Linked DNA regions of Homo sapiens: region 2 is linked to region 1. Evidence: fine-mapped expression QTL. Tissue or cell type: skeletal muscle. Region 1 holds a variant in brackets; the other region holds the start of a gene. All regions are shown on one strand. Distances are between the middles of the regions.

Region 1 (8,177 bases):
CTTGAAAGTCACCAGCTTGTTTATTATCATCACTGAATACAGTCACAGGCCAGAGGTTGTGCCAGGCATGCACAGCTGTGTCTTTAGTCACTGTGTTCTCAGCATTGGCAACAGTGTTTACAGCCTCCTTTGCGCTCAACTCCTCTTGAAAATCTCCCACACGCACACCACTGTTCACTGCTGCTAGCGCGCTGTTCAAGAGAGGGTTTTTATATTTACTCTTCATTGATCTAAGGATAACCTGGTCACATGACTGAATTAATGAAGTCACATTTGGGGAAAGTACATGGCATAAGCATTTTTTATGAGAATCTCAGCTGAAAGATGAGCAGAACTGTTGTCAAGGAATAACAAAACCTGGCCAGGTTTTGTGCCTCATGCCTGTAATTCCAGCACTTTGGAAGGCCAAGGCGGGAGAAGTGCTTGAGCCCAGGAGTTTGAGATCAGCCTGGGCAACATAATGAGATCTTGTCTTTACAAAAAACTTAAAAATTAGCTGTAGCCCTAGCTACTTGAGAAGCTGAGGTGGAAGGATCACTTGAGTCTAGGAGTTCAAGACTGCAGTGAGCTAGGATAACACCACTGCACTTCAGCACGGGTGACAGAGAGACACCTTGTCTCTAAAAAATTAAAATAAAATAAAATAAAAGGAATAAGAAAATCTTGCAGTCATATCTAGCTCAGCTTCCCTGAGCACAAGTCACTGGTACAAAATGTTTGTGAAATAGGCCGGGCACAGTGGCTCACACCTGTAATCTCAACATTTTGGGAGGTTGAGGCAGGAGGATTGCTTGAACCCAGGAGTTCAAGACGAGCCTGAGCAACATAATGAGACCCTGTCTCTATTTTTTTAAACTAAATTAAATCGAGTTTTTAAAAAACAAAATGTTTGTGAAATCAATCAGAATTGGTACTGCATGCATTTTTGTTAGTATAACAATTAGACTGGTAAGAAATTTACTCCATGAAAACAGTGAGGGTGCAAGTGTTTGCCCATCACAGCAAGCTCAAACTTATGCGTGCCTGCTGCATTAGCACATCCCAGCACCGTCGTTCTGCCCCTGACATCCTTCATTCCCACAGGGGCTGTCTCATCAGCTGTAGTCAGTGTCTTTCTGGGGCAAGCTCAGCAAAACAGTGATGTTTCATCAGTGTCGTAGAGTTGCTCTTGTGTCTGTAGAGTTTTATCAGTGATGAACTTGGCAAACTCATTAATGAATTTCCTCACTGCTTCTTGATCAGCAAATGTTTTATCACCACAAATCTTTAAGAATTTAATGCTGTCTTTAATTTTCTTTTATTTTCTTTCCTTTTTTTTTTTGTTTGTTTGTTTGTTTTTGTTTTTTTCCAGAAGGAGTCACGCTCTGTCTCCAGGCTGAAGTGCAGTGGCGTGATCTGGGCTCACTGCAACCTCCGCCTCTCAGGTTTAAGTGATTCTCCTGCCTCAGCCACCTGAGTAGCTAGGACGACAGGTGAGAGCCACTACGCCCAGCTAATTTTGGTATTTTTTCTTTTCTTCTTTGAGACAGGCAGGGTCTCACTCTCTCACCTGGCCTGGATTGTAGTGGTGCAATCATGGTTGACTGCAGCTTCAACCTGCTGGGCTCAAGCCTTCCTTCCACCTCAGCCTCCTAAGTAGCTAGGACTATAGGCACATACCATACCTGGCTAATTTTTAAAAAGTTTTGTATAGTAATTGGTTTTTCTGGAGTAAAATCAAAACAGAAATCTCATCCCCAAATATTCAGGATATGTATTTTTTCATTGCAGACACAGTGGGGCATTGACCGTAACTGCTTTAACAAAAATATTTAAATTATCTTGTAAGTCAGTGTTTTAAGGAGATAAAAAGAATCTGGGATGATGTGAAATAAAAATACAGTGGAAATAAAAAATCTTAGAAAAACATGTTTTGTATAGACGAGGTCTCACTATGTTGCCCAGGCTGACTCACACTCCTGAGCTCAAGCAACACTTTCTCCTCAGCTTCTCAAAGTGTTAGGATTACAGGCATGAGCCACTGAGCTCAGCTTAATGTTGTCTTTTCTTAAATTTCTGCATCCAGCCTGTTGAATATTCACAGTTTCCTTCAATTTTTTGTTCAGCTTGACTGATCCTTGCTTATTTAATGATCAGGGTACCATCATACAACACTGACGGGGTCACTCTCAGTACACAGCTGAGATCTTCATTTTTAGCTTTACGCAGTTTTTTTCTAGTTTCATTAACTTCTGTTCGTTTCTTGCGGCATAGTACTTTGACAGTTCATCCTTCTGTTTCTTCAGGTCATGTGCCATGGTCATTCCAACACTGAGCTCTTCCATCTGATGTTTTACATCTGCAGCACTGTCCGGCTTCTCCAACAGCTTGACTTTCCATGTTATAGATAAACACAAATGCTTCCTTTTTTTCTTATCACTTCTTTTTTTTTTTTTTTTTTTTAGCCCATGGGAGTATCAGCAGGCCTTTAAAATTTTAATCAATAACTTTATTTATTTATTTATTTTTATTTAATGTAATTAATTTATTTATTTTTCAGATGGAGTCTCACTCTTGTTGCCCAGGCTGGAGTGCAGTGGCACTATCTCGGCTCACTGCAACCTCCGCCTCACAGGCTCAAGCAATTCTCCTGCCTCAGCCTCCAGAGTAGCTGGGATTACTGGTGCCCGCAACCACACTCAGCTAATTTTTGTATTTTTAATAGAGATGAGATTCCACCATGTTGGCCAGGCTGGTCTCGGCCTCCTGACCTCAGGTGATCCACCCGCCTCAGCCTCCCAAAGTGCTGGGATTACAGGTGTGAGCCACCGCTCCTGGCCTTAATCAATAACTTTACACCACACAGCAGAGAATAAGAAAAAGAACCAAGTGAGTAATGCAGGTAGATCTTGGCTTCATGTGGGGCATAGTGGGGAATGTGTTACTGGTGCCTCAGCCTGTGAAAGTGCTATTTTATTCTCTGTGTGAGTGCTTGAGGGGCAGAGGGAACCTGGATGTGCGTGGAAAAGATACATCACTGCTGAAGCGGGCTGAGAAGGCCTTTTTTTCCTTTGGGGATATGAAATAAACGATGTGTTGTGCACCAGTATTTTGACTGTGACATGTCACATGAGATCAGATGTGGAATTTTCCACTTGTGACATCATGTCCACTCTCAAGACATTTCAGATCTTGGAGCATTTCCGATTTCAGATTTTAAGATTAGGGATGCTTAACCTGTACTTTCTTGCAACTGAAGGCCACAGGTTTCCAGATTGAAAGGATTCACTTGGGCCCAGCACAAACAACAAAATAAAACCACACCAAGGCACAGGATGATGAAATTCCCAAGCAACAGAGATAAGGAAAAGAATCCAAAACCCCACAGGGAAAGAAAATAAGAATTAGAATGACATCAGACTATCAATAGCTGGAAACAAGATCACAGAGAAATGGTTCCACGGTTGGAGGAGGTACAATGCTACATCCAAGCAAACTATCACTGAAATGTAAGAGGAGAATAAAGACAATCTCAGACATGCAAAACTTTGAAAATGTTACCTTCCATGCAGCTTCTCTCAGGAAGCTACTGAAGGAGATGCTCCAAGAAAGGAAATCAATGAAGCAAAAGGAAGGCCTGAAACCCAGGAAATCAGGGCTCCAACTCAGGAAATGGGCAAAGGGGACTTCTCAGATGACGGAGCAGGGAAGTCCAGGGTTGACAGCTGTTTGATGGCTTCCAGGACAACCAGTGGTAGGAGGGCAACGTTCTCCAAGAGAAGTGTCTCCGAGAGGAGAAAGGGAATGGGGATGTTACCTGGCGTGTGTAAATTTGCTCAGAATAGTTCTCCATTTCTGAGAGAGTGAAGAGGTGAAATTAATGACAAGCACATAGGTAACTAAAGAAAGCATAAAGGCAATTATCAACTTCCAGAAAGAAAGGTTATACAAGACAGGAAATGTAATTAAAGCATATTATGTGGCATAACTACGGACACTATTTATGTGGTCATAATAGTAACCACAGAATATTGATCTAACAAAAAATGATACCCTTATGAGAATGGTGAGAGGGTACTTGGGAAAGCAGCATAAGAGCTAATCTTCATCTTCGTAACAGAAAGTCCATCAATAATATTTAATACTAAAAAATCAAGGATTATCAGTGCAGAGAGGTGATTTAGAAAGAGGTAAGAAAATGCCAGAAGAAATAACTAAAGGTTGAAAATGCTCCATCTGGGGAAAATATTTGGTCTGGGCAGGCACAGGGTGGCGCTGCTCTTTTTCATTATATGCTGTTGAAAACCATTTGACCTTTAAAATGATATATGACTTCTTTAATTAAAAAAATCAAAATTAATTTTACAAACAACTTTTAAAAATAACCTCTAGGGAGAAGTGGAAACAGGCTTTATAAACATATGTATCCCTTTACAGGGGAAATATATTTAAAAACTGTTTATATTAAAACAAAAAATAAATTTTAATT[A/T]AAAAAAGGGGGGGTGGATACTGGATTTGAACCCAGGACTTTGACTCTCTGTCAGAGGACGGTGGAGGGAGGAGTTGGACCCACAGGACACATAGGACTTGGACCAACAAAGATGGGGAGGGAATTCCCAGCTGGGAAAAGACACAGAATATTTGGCTCAAAACAAGAAACCCACACAGAGATTTTGGTTTGAAGCTTTGGAAAACATTTGTTTTCGTTCCTTGTAAAAAATGGATGACGAACGGAGTTATTTGAAATGAGATTTTAACAAGAAAAAAACTCATCACATTTCATTAGCATTCTCCTACGAGCCCATTATTAACAAGTCCGATGACTGGTTTTAAGAGTTTCTATTTCCTTATGATCTCCAGTGAAAGTCATCAACACCAAGAGAGGGTTCAGAGTTTGTTCATTGTTTGCTATTTTTTTCAGTTAACATTCTTTGTTCTTCCTCTAAGCATATTATTTGATTTATATTTTTGCAACCACTTTCCACACTGCCTTTAGAGCTTATTTATGTGTTAAAAAGGCACTTATGCAAGCGTAGGTCCCTCAGCGTGAGTGGATTGAAACGGCATGTGCTTTAGAGACACACAGAACTTAATTTGAATTCCAGATACTGGTTTATTAACTGTGTGATCCTGAGCAACTGACTCATTCTCACTGGGCTGCAGGATTCCCTGAAAAACTGGAACCAGACATTCATTTCCCTAGCTATTGATGTGAGTAGTAAATTAAGGAACAAGGCTGGGTGCAGTGGCTCATGCCTGTAATCCCAGCACTTTGGGAGGCCAAGGCGGAGGGATTGCTTGAGCCCAGGAGTTCAAGATCAGCCTGGGTAACATGATGAAGCCTTGTCTCTACATAAAAATACAACAATTAGCCAGGTGTGGTGGCACGTGCCTGTAGTCTCAGCTACTCGGGAGGCTGAGATGGGAGAATCACCTGAGCCTGGGAAGTCCAGGCTGCAGTGAGCCATGATTGTGCTACCACACTCCAGACTGGGCGACAGGGCAAGACCGTGTCTCAAAAAAAATTAATTAATTGATTAAGGAACAGACTTGGAGAACCTGCTAGTTACTTAGCAAACAGAAATTACTCTTCCTTTCCCCCATCCACATATACAGAAAAGTACTCAGACGCTAATTACTTAAATGACTTTTACCACAATTGTGTCCAAGTGGAATTTCATCCGTCCACCTACATTTTGAGGATTTCTTGGAACTCCTTGTCCATACATATCTCACGGCTATTACAGACTGATAGTGCCTGCTGAAAGCTTCTAGAAAAGCCTTGGAGTTCAGTGGCTGTGCTCTGACCTAGGATTAGCAGTAAAACAGGGTCCAACTCCCTATCGTGTCTTCAGGTTCTAGCTCATCTGAGTCATGATCAGTCCATTGCCATTCAGAAGGCAGATCCAAGGAAAAGCGGTGCCATGTGCAAATGTGACCAGAATATAGCACTGGCCCCGGAATCCAAATGTCTGATTCCGATTCTGGCCTATCCCTCACGTGCAATCTTGGACAAATCCTTCCATCTTTCCGGGCTGTGGCTTCCTCATCTGGCTAAAGGGAATCACACCCCTGCCTTGTCAAGCTCACTGGTTTGTGACGAGGTTTACAAGGTGAGGGAGCAGGTGAGGGTACTATCTGTATATCTTTTCTTCCAGTGTTTCCTTGCCTCCTCTTTTCTGCTCCTACCCTGGCTCTGTAGGGTGGGAGGACAGGAAAGAACCCTCAGGGCTTCCGGCTTCTGAATCCCACGAGAGACAGCTTATCTCAGCCTCACTAAGTCCCTGGCACTGTTCTAAGCACATCACGTGCATCAACTCATTTGATCCTCAGAACAATCCTAAGAGGCAGGAGTTATTACAGCCCATCATCCAGATGAAAAAACTGATCGTGATCACTTAACGGGGTTCAGAAATCCACCAAAGGTCACACAGCCAGGGAGTGAGGGGCCAGGATTTGAACTCAAGCTTCCTGGCTCCTGAGCCCCCAGACTCAGCCAGTTCCTGTGTTCATACTTCCTCTCACACCATAAAACGTAAACCTTTAGGAAAATTGAGAGAAGTTTCCCAAATGGAAGGAAAAGAAGGGGAATTGTGGGTCCTCACACACCATCTCAGAGCCAAGGGGAGGTGGTATTGATTCCAACTTCTTGGATCACTGTGGGGATTGAACTAGAAAATAAACATTCTGGCTTATGGAAGTCCTCAGAGATTGGCACTTCCCTTCAGCACCAGCCCCGGAAGCCCCATCACCCTGAGCCGGTCCATCTCTTGGAATCTTGAAGTGTCCTGTGTCTGGTCGGGACAGGTAAGTAGCAAGATATTCGTGGAGCTGGCAGGCCTACATGGAAATGAGGGCCAACTTTTTCACCTTTATCATTTTCCCCCAAATCCAGGTTCCAGGGACTTGACTGCCATGGCCAGCTGTCAAGGGTGAGGCTGCTGACTTCTCGGCACCCACCTCCATGCCTCCTGGGCCTCCCTGGGTTCCGTGGGGCCTCCTCCGAGTATTGATGGCAGGAAGGACAGGCCCTAGAGCTGGGCTCAGAGCTCAGCAGGGCCCAGTTTGCCATCCTGAGGCTCCTCCAAGCCTCAGGCTCCTATTGTGCAGAACAAGGACAGAAATCCTTCAGGCCAGGAGCAGTGGCTCACACCTGTAATCCCAACACTTTGGGAGGCTGAGGCAGGCAGACCTACTTGACGTAGGCCAGGAGTTCGAGACCAGCCTGAACAACATGGTGAAATCTCGTCTCTACTAAAAAATAAAAAAATTAGCTGGGCCCGGTGTCATGTGCTTGTGATCCCAGCTACTTGGGAAGCTGAAGCAGGAGAATTGCTTGAACCCTATCCGGGAGGCACAGGTTGCAGTGAGCCGGGATCACGCCACTGCACTCTAGCTTGGGTGACAGAGCAAGATTCTGTCTCAAAAAAAAAAAAAAAAAATCCTTCATTCACTTAACAAATATCAAAGTCCTACTGCGTGCTGGGCGCTGTTCCTGGTGCTGGGAAGATCAGGGAATTACACAGATGAAGCCACTGCCCTCACGGAGCCCAGAGCCTAGTGAGGGACAGATAAAGAATAAACAAACGTGTAAGCATGACCTCTGCTGCCATGGAGTGGTTTAAATGGAGAAAAACAAAGCAAGGTGAGGAGGGATCGTAAAGACTCACAACAGCACAATTTTAGGCAAGGGGTCAGGAAAGGCTTCTCTGAGCCACCGAGCAGGTACTTGAGCCAGGTAAAAAAGGGACAGAAAGAATCACACAAATAACCAGGGCACAGCGTTCCAGGAAGAGGGAACAGCAAGTTCAAAGGCCCTGCGGCAGGGATGTGTGCACTGTGCTGGAGAGACAGCCAGAATCACTCAATGGCATCAGTCATTGAAGTCACAAGAGGCAGGGGAGCTACATCCTGTAGGGACTTGCGGGCCAGGGTAAGGGACACTGGAGGAAGGGGAACATTTAGCAAAAGAAAAGACTTAGGAGGACAAGGGATAGTATAGAGCCAGGCCTCAAAGTCAACCAGACAAGGTTCAGACTATGGCTGTTATATTCAATAGCTGTGTGACCTCAGAAAAGTTCTCTAAGCTTTCTGAGCCTCTGTTTCCCCATCTACAAAATGAGTCATTGGCTGGGCATGATGGCTCATGCCTGTAATTCCAGCACTTTAGGAGGCCGAGGCGGGAGGATCACTTGAGG
Region 2 (8,177 bases), 22 kb after region 1:
GGAGCAAAGAGGTGAAACTGGAGCAGTGTGAGGGTTAAAGGGAAGGCGGCTGGCGGTGCCGAGCAGGGGAGCACGTCGGGGGTACAGCACCAGGGCTGGAGGAATCGGCTGGCCCACAGGTGGGCGACCTGGGACCCTCTATGTCAGGTGGTACATGCTGTAGCCCACATGGGCCGTGTAGAGTCCCACGGGCGCCACAGGCAGCGCGGCGCGCTGGAAGGGGCCAGAGGCACCGTAGAGCGAGGCACCCGCCGCGGCCGCTACAGCTGCGGGGCCGCCGAGAGGGAAGGAGAGGCCGAAGGCAGCCGGTGGCAGCATGGGCTTGGCGGCCATCTTCAGCTTCTCCAGCTCTGCCTCTTGTAGTCTCTTTGCCTTGGCGCGGCGGTTCTGGAACCATATCTTCACCTGCGTCTCAGTGAGGCTGAGCGAGCTGGAGAACTCCGCGCGCTCGGCGATGGACAGGTACTGCTTCTGGCGGAACTTGCGCTCCAGCGCCAGCAGCTGCGCGGTGGTGAAGGGCGTCCGCGGCTTACGGTTCGTCTTGTGTTTGCGGAGGGTGCAGGCTGGGGGGCTCAGCCGCCCTGAGGGCCGAAAGAAAAAAAAAGCAAGGGGTTAAGAGAGAAGCATTGGAGCATGATCAGCCCAAGAAGTAGTAATAATAGCCAAACAATACCAGATATTGAGTGCCGCCAAGTGCCTCGGTGCCGGGCATCGCGCAAGGCACTTGAAATATATTTTCTCCAATTCCCATTGCAACCCCGCAGGGGAGAAGTTCCTGTCTACTTTTTGCAAATGAAGAAACTAAGATTCCAGGAGAAAAATACCCACGTTGAAGGCTCGATGTCCACATCTTAGGCCTAAACAGCTGGGAAGATGTGAAATCACCTTTGTGCTGCCCGGCGGCTTAGGAAGGCCTTCATGGCGGGCCTCCTCCCAGGGCCATCCAGAGGAAAGGTGGATGTTAATACAGTTGACGAACATGCAGAAAGAGGCCCTGCGCCCAGCCCAAGGGCACATTTAGTTTTACGCGTTGGCCAAACATTTATCAGTGCCCACGGAGTGCTTCAGTGTGGGGCTAGGCAGTTTTGTGGCATAGAATCCAAATCAAATTCTACACTTTCCCCGGAACACTTCGCTCCTACGGGATTCTAGGAGTAGTTCCCGCAGACCAGAGATGGAGCAGCGCAGACCATCATGGAGGGTGCACTGTGGCCAGCCCTCTTAGAAACAGAAAGTGTCATCTGGAGCGGAGAACGAGGGGCTGCTTTATTCTAATGGGCTTTTTCTTTAGATTGTCTCAGTCCTCTGTTGGATCGCGTTCACCCCTGGCGCCAGGGCCCTCTGGCCCCACTCAAACGTTTGTGTGTGTGTGTGTGTGTGTGTGTTGATGTTGTTGCGGGGGGAGTGTTGAGATCGCCTCTCCCCTCAACCTGTGGCATAGTCAGCAGACATCAACATGCCCAGCTGTCTTTTTCTTTTGGCTTCAAAATAAACCTCAAGGGTGGACAGTGAAGAAGCATCAGAGCGCAGGACTAGTGCAGGTCGGGGATGGGGTCTGCTGGGGACTGCCCCCGGATAAAATGTGGAACAAATTATCCCAACACAGCCGGGATCGCTTTGACTTCGGGGTCTTGGGGCCCAAGGCCCTAAGCGTTGGAAAGGACACTTTGCCTATGCAGCAGCTTTCCCGGCAGAAAGTGAATTCAAATCGAAGATGTTTCACCACGCGGGTTTTGCCTAAGTATGCATTTTTTCACACCTCTCTAAAAAACAACCACAAACAAACAGAAAAAACAAAACAAAACAAAGAAAACACAACGATCCTTTGGACTTTCAGACCACCAGGATGTGAGTCAAACGAAATCTCGTGTTAACACCCCGCTTCTTCCCTGCTGGAGGCCACCGGGAGTCCGGGAAGCGCTTGGCCCCCAACTAGCTTTCCGCCGGGCCGCCCGAGGGGCGGGCGCCGAGAGAAACGTCACTCCCTTCAGCGGCGACAACCCAGAGCGGGGCCACCTTCTCCGGCCATTAGGCTTAGGGAGGGACTGGCCTTTCAAAGACGTTTAATCCCCAGATAAAAATCATTCCTCAGCATCACGCCATTGAAATCTGGCTGCTATTATGCCGAGCAAAATAATCGGAGGAAACGAGGAAAACTTGGGAATTTCCCGTGCTCCTGAAATATCTCCGAGCGTGTTCTCTGAGTAGAGCAGCCAGGGGGCCGTGAGGCCTTGGAGCGAACCGCCTTGGGCACCTGGAGTCCACTTTAATGGCTCAGTCCTAGACGTTTGGGAGCTTCCCATAGGATTAGCGGGGGCGCCTTCCCCTAATTGACTTGGTGCCCCGCCCCCTCCACTGGAACCTGAATGTCCCCACCCCTGAATCATCCATCCGCCCAAAGCACCAACTATCTGCCTCAAACTCAAAGGGCATGGGGAGGTAGAATTCTGTAGGAGCTTCGGAACCTCTAGGCAAAGAGGTACTTGAAAGGGAAGAGGGGCTGGGGGACACCAGCTCCTACTGCGAGAAAGTGAAACTCCGGGTGCAGGGAAGATACCGCACCACACACATTCATCCGCTGGGGTGAAGCCGATGAAACAGAGTTTGGGATCAGATGAGGGATCATGGACCCCTGAGGTCGTTTGGTGGGGGCAGGAGGACAGGGTGCCCAGACATCGGTGTCCTATCCGTTAACTCCCACCCGCAGCGTCTCTGGGCCAAGGCGAGGAGGTCTGGAACCTTCTTCCTGGGTGGGAGTGGAGGGAGGCGCAAGACCCGGCCTTGCAGCCCACGGCTCCCTAGCACCGGCTGCAGGTACGCAGGCGCCGGAGGCCACCAGGAGCCCTCGGGTCCCACACCCCACCCGGCCCCCACCCGGCCCCCTCCCTCTGCGCCTGGGTTCTGGCTACTCACTGGCCGGCGGCGGGGAGAAGCGGGGGCTCTGCATCCACGGGGTCCTCTCGGGCTTCTCGGGGCTCTCGGCTTTGACGAGCGCATCTTCTGGCAGCTTGAGGAGTCCCCCCACCGAGAAATGGCCGAGCGGCCGCGGCGAAGAGGGCGCGTCCGGGGCTCCCAGCGACCCCGGCGGGACGCCCAGTGGCTGCGCCGAGCCACCCGCCGCCTGCACGCCCTCGGAGGGCGCCAGGGCGCTCTCCTTGGCCCCCGGCTTCCTGTGGTCGGCCATGAGCGCCTCCACGCTGAAGGGCAGGAGCGAAGGGGACACTTTGGGCTTGGCCCCCTCCTCGTCCGCGCCCATGGCGGCTGCCGTGGCCGCGGCGGCGCTGGGGGCCTGGCCCGCGCCTCCCCCCGCCGGCTTGCCGAAGGCGGAGTCCTCCACTTTGACACCGAGTGGCAAAGAAGTCATGTCAGCAGCCGGGGCCATGCAGAGCCGGGCCCCCCCTTCTGCCGCAGCACTGGCCAGCCGCCGGGCATGGGCTCCGGGCGGGCTGGGAGCGCGGCCGGCCTCTGCGAGCGCCCGGGGCCCTGGCCGGGCGGACCCTCCCGCGCGCGCCTCCCGCCCCTCCCCAGCAGGCCAGCTCCGGCGTGCTGGGCCTGGCCTCCGGTCGCTGCCGCCGCGCAGGCAGAGTTCCCGGGAGCACTCGCCGGCTCCGGGCCCTACCGCGGCTCCCCAGAGAACTTGCTAATAAGGCGAGGCCAGCGGGGCGGCGGCCAATCAGCGCGCGAGGGGGCGGGCCCGGAGCGATCCATTGGGCCGCGCTCCTGGGGACTCGCCCGGAGGCGCGCTGGGCCTGGGGGCACGCAGGGCAGGGCCCAGGCGGCGGAGGGCAGGGGAGGAGAGGGGGTGCCCGGGAAACTTTCCTCTGCGCTGAAGCCCAAGAGGCCCTCTCTGCGGGAGTCCCCTGGGTCTCTATCTTTCTGTGTTCCCGGGGGATTTTCCCTTGTTCTCGTTCCTTCTCTTCTGCCCTCCTCTCCTCCCCTCCCCTCCCCTCCTCAGCCCTCTTTTCCGCTCCTCTTTTTTTCCCCGTCCTTGTTTCTCTCCTCTACTGCTTCTTTTACCTTTCTCTTTAGTCTGTGGCTGGGTTTCCCTGTGCCCCCCTCCACTGTCTGACCCCCCCTCTTCTTCTACCACAATAATTTGAGTTGAGGTTATTTCTTACACATTCCTTTTATATATAGTTTTTAAAATACGCATGGCTATTTATCCTAGGAGAAAGACATACTATTAACTTCTTTTCAAGAAACGAAACAAAACCAAACCTTCATTTTCTTCCTGTTCTGAAATCTTGTAAACTTTACCTCGAGGTAAAAGTGGGCCTTTGTCTCTAACTTAGAGCTGGAGTAAACCTTGCGGGAAGAAGCTAGCTTCCTGTAGTGCCAAGGATGTGAGAATACGTAAGATTATCTAGAATCTGCAGTCGGTTTTCATACACGATGTGTATTCCCCCCCCCCCACCCTCGCTCTGAACTTCTGTCCCAAGGGTCACAACACCTATAGCGCCCGGGCGGGGAAAGGAGCTGCCAGATCCTTTTGATATAGAACTTACTGAAATAAAACCAACAGAATCGTCAATGAAACACCGATCTGGCCTTAAGGTGACCTCAAACAACGCGTCCTCGGAAACAATGACATGTCCCTATCTCTGGGCCGCTGATCCTGGAGGGGAGAGGCACATTTGGGGGAGGGGGCTGGGAAAAGAGGAAAGTTCCTGGAGGTGGACTCTAGTGTGGGACTTGAGAACTCTTCTTTTGCCAATTTCGGAGAAAACGTGATTTAATGTTTGCTGTTAATAATAATAATAATAATAAAGACAGAAAAAATGAGTTGGGGTCAGGGGAGATGCAAGATCTGCCTGAAGCGGGGTCGGGGCTTGGCCATTTTCTGCGCCTGTCGCTTTATGGCCTCTCCTCCTGCGGCCCAGGCCAGCGGCTCTCAGGGAGTGAGCGGAGGTGATTGGCGGCTCACTCGGCCCTGCCATTGATGACTGCGGGGTTCTAATCTCCAGGAAACACAAGGGGCTGCCGTGGCCATTTAGGGGTAATTATCCGAGCGCGGAGGGACAGCGAATTCCCTCGACTTTTAACTGGGCGCAATAAAAGCTGTAGATTAGGGGCGTCCAGATTAGGGAAAATGAATTAGAGCGGGAACTTTATTATCCGGAAGACGTCCGGGGTCTGGCGGCAGGGGTCGGGCTGCGGACGCCGGAGCGATTGGTAGCCTCCCATCTGTCCACAGGCCGCCGAGATATGCTGAGGCCTGGGGAAGTTCGGGAATACCGGCATCTGAATTTTACGCACATCTCCAGGTTTCTAAAGGACCCAAGACTGCAACTCAGGCACTGGGCAGTGGTTGGGGCTTCTAGCTCGAGTTGGGCCGGCTGGACGCGCGGTGCACCGGGGCCTCCGGAGGTTTGCCCGAGAGGGTACAAGGATAGAAGACCTTAAGACCCAATTTTGAAGCTCAGCTCGCTGAGGCTGAGCAAGGCTGTAGGGCAAATACCTTGCTGGTAGCCCAGCCAGGACAGCGAACAACAGCATCTTCCTCTTCTTCCTCTTCTTCTTCTTCTTCCTCTTCCTCTTTTTCTTCCTCTTTTCTCCTCCTCCTCATCCTCCTCTTCCTCCTCTCCTCCTCATCTCCTCCTCCTCCTCCTCCTTCTTCTTCCTCTTCCTCTTCTTTGAGACGGAGTTTTGCTCTTGTCGCCCAGGCTGGAGTGCAATGGCGCGATCTCAGTTCACTCCAACCTCCGCCTCCCAGGTTCAAGCGATTCCAGGACGGCGAACTTCTATTGCTCCCGTTCTAATCAAACTCTCGTCAGAACAACCCCCTCCGCACCCAGCCAGAATCTCCCTTTGTGGCCAGGTTAAAGGGGGAGAGGAAACAGAGGCCTATCTGCTTTTGGGGCCATTTAAAAAGCGAGCAGTGTGCCTTTTCGAGTCTTTGCTTAGTTCCGCCCTCGCCCTCCTTCTGCAAATGTTTTGCTCCCAGGTCTCTTTAAGAATCTGATACAGCCAAGAACTTCTTCCCTAGAAAAATGCACACCTACAAAAACACATTACAAGCAACGGGGCAGACAACTTCGGGGGCTCTGGTCCCAAGTGGAGTCCTCCAGTTAAGAACCCCTGCTTTAGGGCTGAGCGGGGGCTTGAACTCAGAGAGCGAAGCCGCATGGTGCAGCGGGGGCTAGTGTGGAACTTGCGGCGGTCGCAGTTGAGGAGCGCAGCAAGGCCTGGACTCCGCCGCGGGGGGGGGGGGGGGGGCGGGGGGCCCGGGGGCGGGCGGCCTGAAAAGGGCCGCATCGCTAATTGCGGGGATAAACAATGTGTCACGATTCCTCAGCGCGCCTAATAGGCAGACTAGGATGTTGTTTTAAGGCGCCAGCGGCGGCCGGATCAAAGGCTGCACCCGGCGCACGGGCCCTTGAAGTCGCGCCCCTGCCTCCGGGGAGCAAATCGCCTGGCCCCGCAGCACCGGCCCCGCAGCCAGCCCCTCGGCTTCCCGAGCCGGGTCTGAACGCCACGGTGTCTTCTTTATAGGTTCGGCCTGGGTTCGTGTCTGCTGTCGCCCCGCGCGGCAGGTTAACCGCGTGTAAACGTTGCTAGGCGAGAAGAGTGCATCGGCAGAGAAGGGGGTTCAGACTCAATTCCGTGTCAGAAAAGCGCGGGGCTTTCCCATTGCTCTGCCCCTGGATTGCGAGAGAAAGAAAGGTGCCGGCAGTCTCAAGAGAAAGGAGTCAGATAAAAGAAATAAAATGTCTGCCTGTTTCCCAGGGCGTTGTTTGTTCCCGCGGGAGGAAAGCCACGAGTTACAGGGGCAGTGAGAGGGAGACTTCTCTGAGTTATTTTTTGTCTAGGACTTTACCGATTTCCCGGCCCAGGGGTTCAGCGAGCAGGCAGGCCCTGGGGCTGAGCCTGTTATCTCGCCGCCAGCTCTAACCTCGAGGCGTTTGTACCCCCGGCATTTCTCTGCGCTGCCGCTGCAGCCGAGAAAGCCGGGCAGTAATTCATGCCTGGCAAGGGCAGGGCTGGCCCCAGCAGATAAAGCTCGGGGACTGGCGCTCCGCTTCCATCCTCTAGACTTCTCTCCCCTCCCCTCTCGCTCCATCTCCCCTCATTTTCAGGCATCCTAAAGCACTCCCCGCCCCCAAGTAGAGGGCCTCTGCATTTCGGATCCTGAAGATGGATTATCCTTCGTCTACTTTCTGGGCAACTAAACTGGTGGTGGGTTTAGCTGGTTTTTTTTTTCCCCCAAAATTTTGCGGGGGTTGGGGGGATGGAGGCAGGGATGGTGGTGTTGCTAAGTATACACCACTCCCGTGCAAAGATTAATTTTTAGAAGGACCCCGTCCTAAAGACGGTTATCCCTATCTGGGTATTGCTGCACCGGTTGGAAGAGCCTGGAGGCTGACTTCTCACTTCGGCATTTGTTGTCGCCTCCGTCGGGTTTTTGTTTATGCTCCCTCCCTCTCTTTCCACTGCATTTTGTGACCTCGGCCCAGGAATCCCGCGTGCATTTTTTAAAAATGTGCAGCTCAGTGGGATCCCCCGGCAATTAGCGAGCCCCAAACAGTCCTCTTTAATAGAATGAATGTGCTATGAAAACCGATTACCCGGAACGATTTATTTTGGTGGGAATTCACCAATCGCCAGGAGGGCGACGGAGGGGGAGAGAGAGGAGGTATTTTGTCCCGGGGAGGGGGTGGGGGTTGACGGGCAGACAGAAAGCACTGTCACGGGGTCTCCCAATCTGCGAAGGGGGCCTCCCGACCCAGCCATCTCCACTCTTTTGGCCTCTGTCGCCTAGAAGTGAGGGGCTGGGAGTCAGGTTCAGCAAACTGGGAGTCACTAACTTCGGGAGGACTTCACAGCGTTCCAGAGAAAAACTCCGAGCCCTGAGAACTCCAGGGAGTCTTCAGCTACTGGTTGAAGATCCACGACACAGACCTGGAGAAAAACAGCGTTCTGCTTTCCGGAGACCTAGGCAGAACTTGCGCTTTTCAGGAGTTTTGGTACCTCCTTTTAACAGCGAAGTCAAAATACAAACTCTTTGTGAAAATGTTTCCTCCTTCTTGCTAAATCCTCCTCAAAGTGGGTGCAACTTGTGCGGTGGTACAGTCCGCGTGGAGTGGATTTCACCCGGCGCCAAGGCGAAATTGACAAGCCCCACTCCCGGCTTCTGCCCCCACCCCCCCCCCCTTCCCCCACTGTCTGCTCTCCCTACC

Direction of the effects. Alleles are on the strand shown, and positions count from the first base shown. SD is a standard deviation of normalised expression in the study named.
For the expression in skeletal muscle of the gene that starts at base 3,617 in region 2, A is the low allele of the variant in region 1 and T is the other (large effect, 0.77 SD a copy in FUSION).

Evidence for each region. PIP is the estimated chance that this variant, and not a neighbour inherited with it, causes the effect.
Region 2: MSX1 starts here. The variant in region 1 is fine-mapped to the expression of MSX1 in skeletal muscle (FUSION, PIP 0.95).

Annotation. Positions count from the first base shown.
Region 1 is chr4:4,876,774-4,884,950 of GRCh38, reverse strand. No RefSeq gene overlaps it. Among named protein-coding and RNA genes, the nearest start is that of MSX1, 21 kb to the right of the region's middle. The variant A/T (reference allele first, on the strand shown) is at 4,469.
Region 2 is chr4:4,855,105-4,863,281 of GRCh38, reverse strand. MSX1 (msh homeobox 1) reads right to left here and starts at 3,617. Exons shown (of 2, transcript NM_002448.3): 1 at 2,914-3,617; 2 at 1-581. The coding sequence starts at 3,382. The coding sequence ends at 139. RefSeq lists an enhancer at 301-972 and silencers at 3,026-3,465, 3,476-3,715, 3,736-3,795.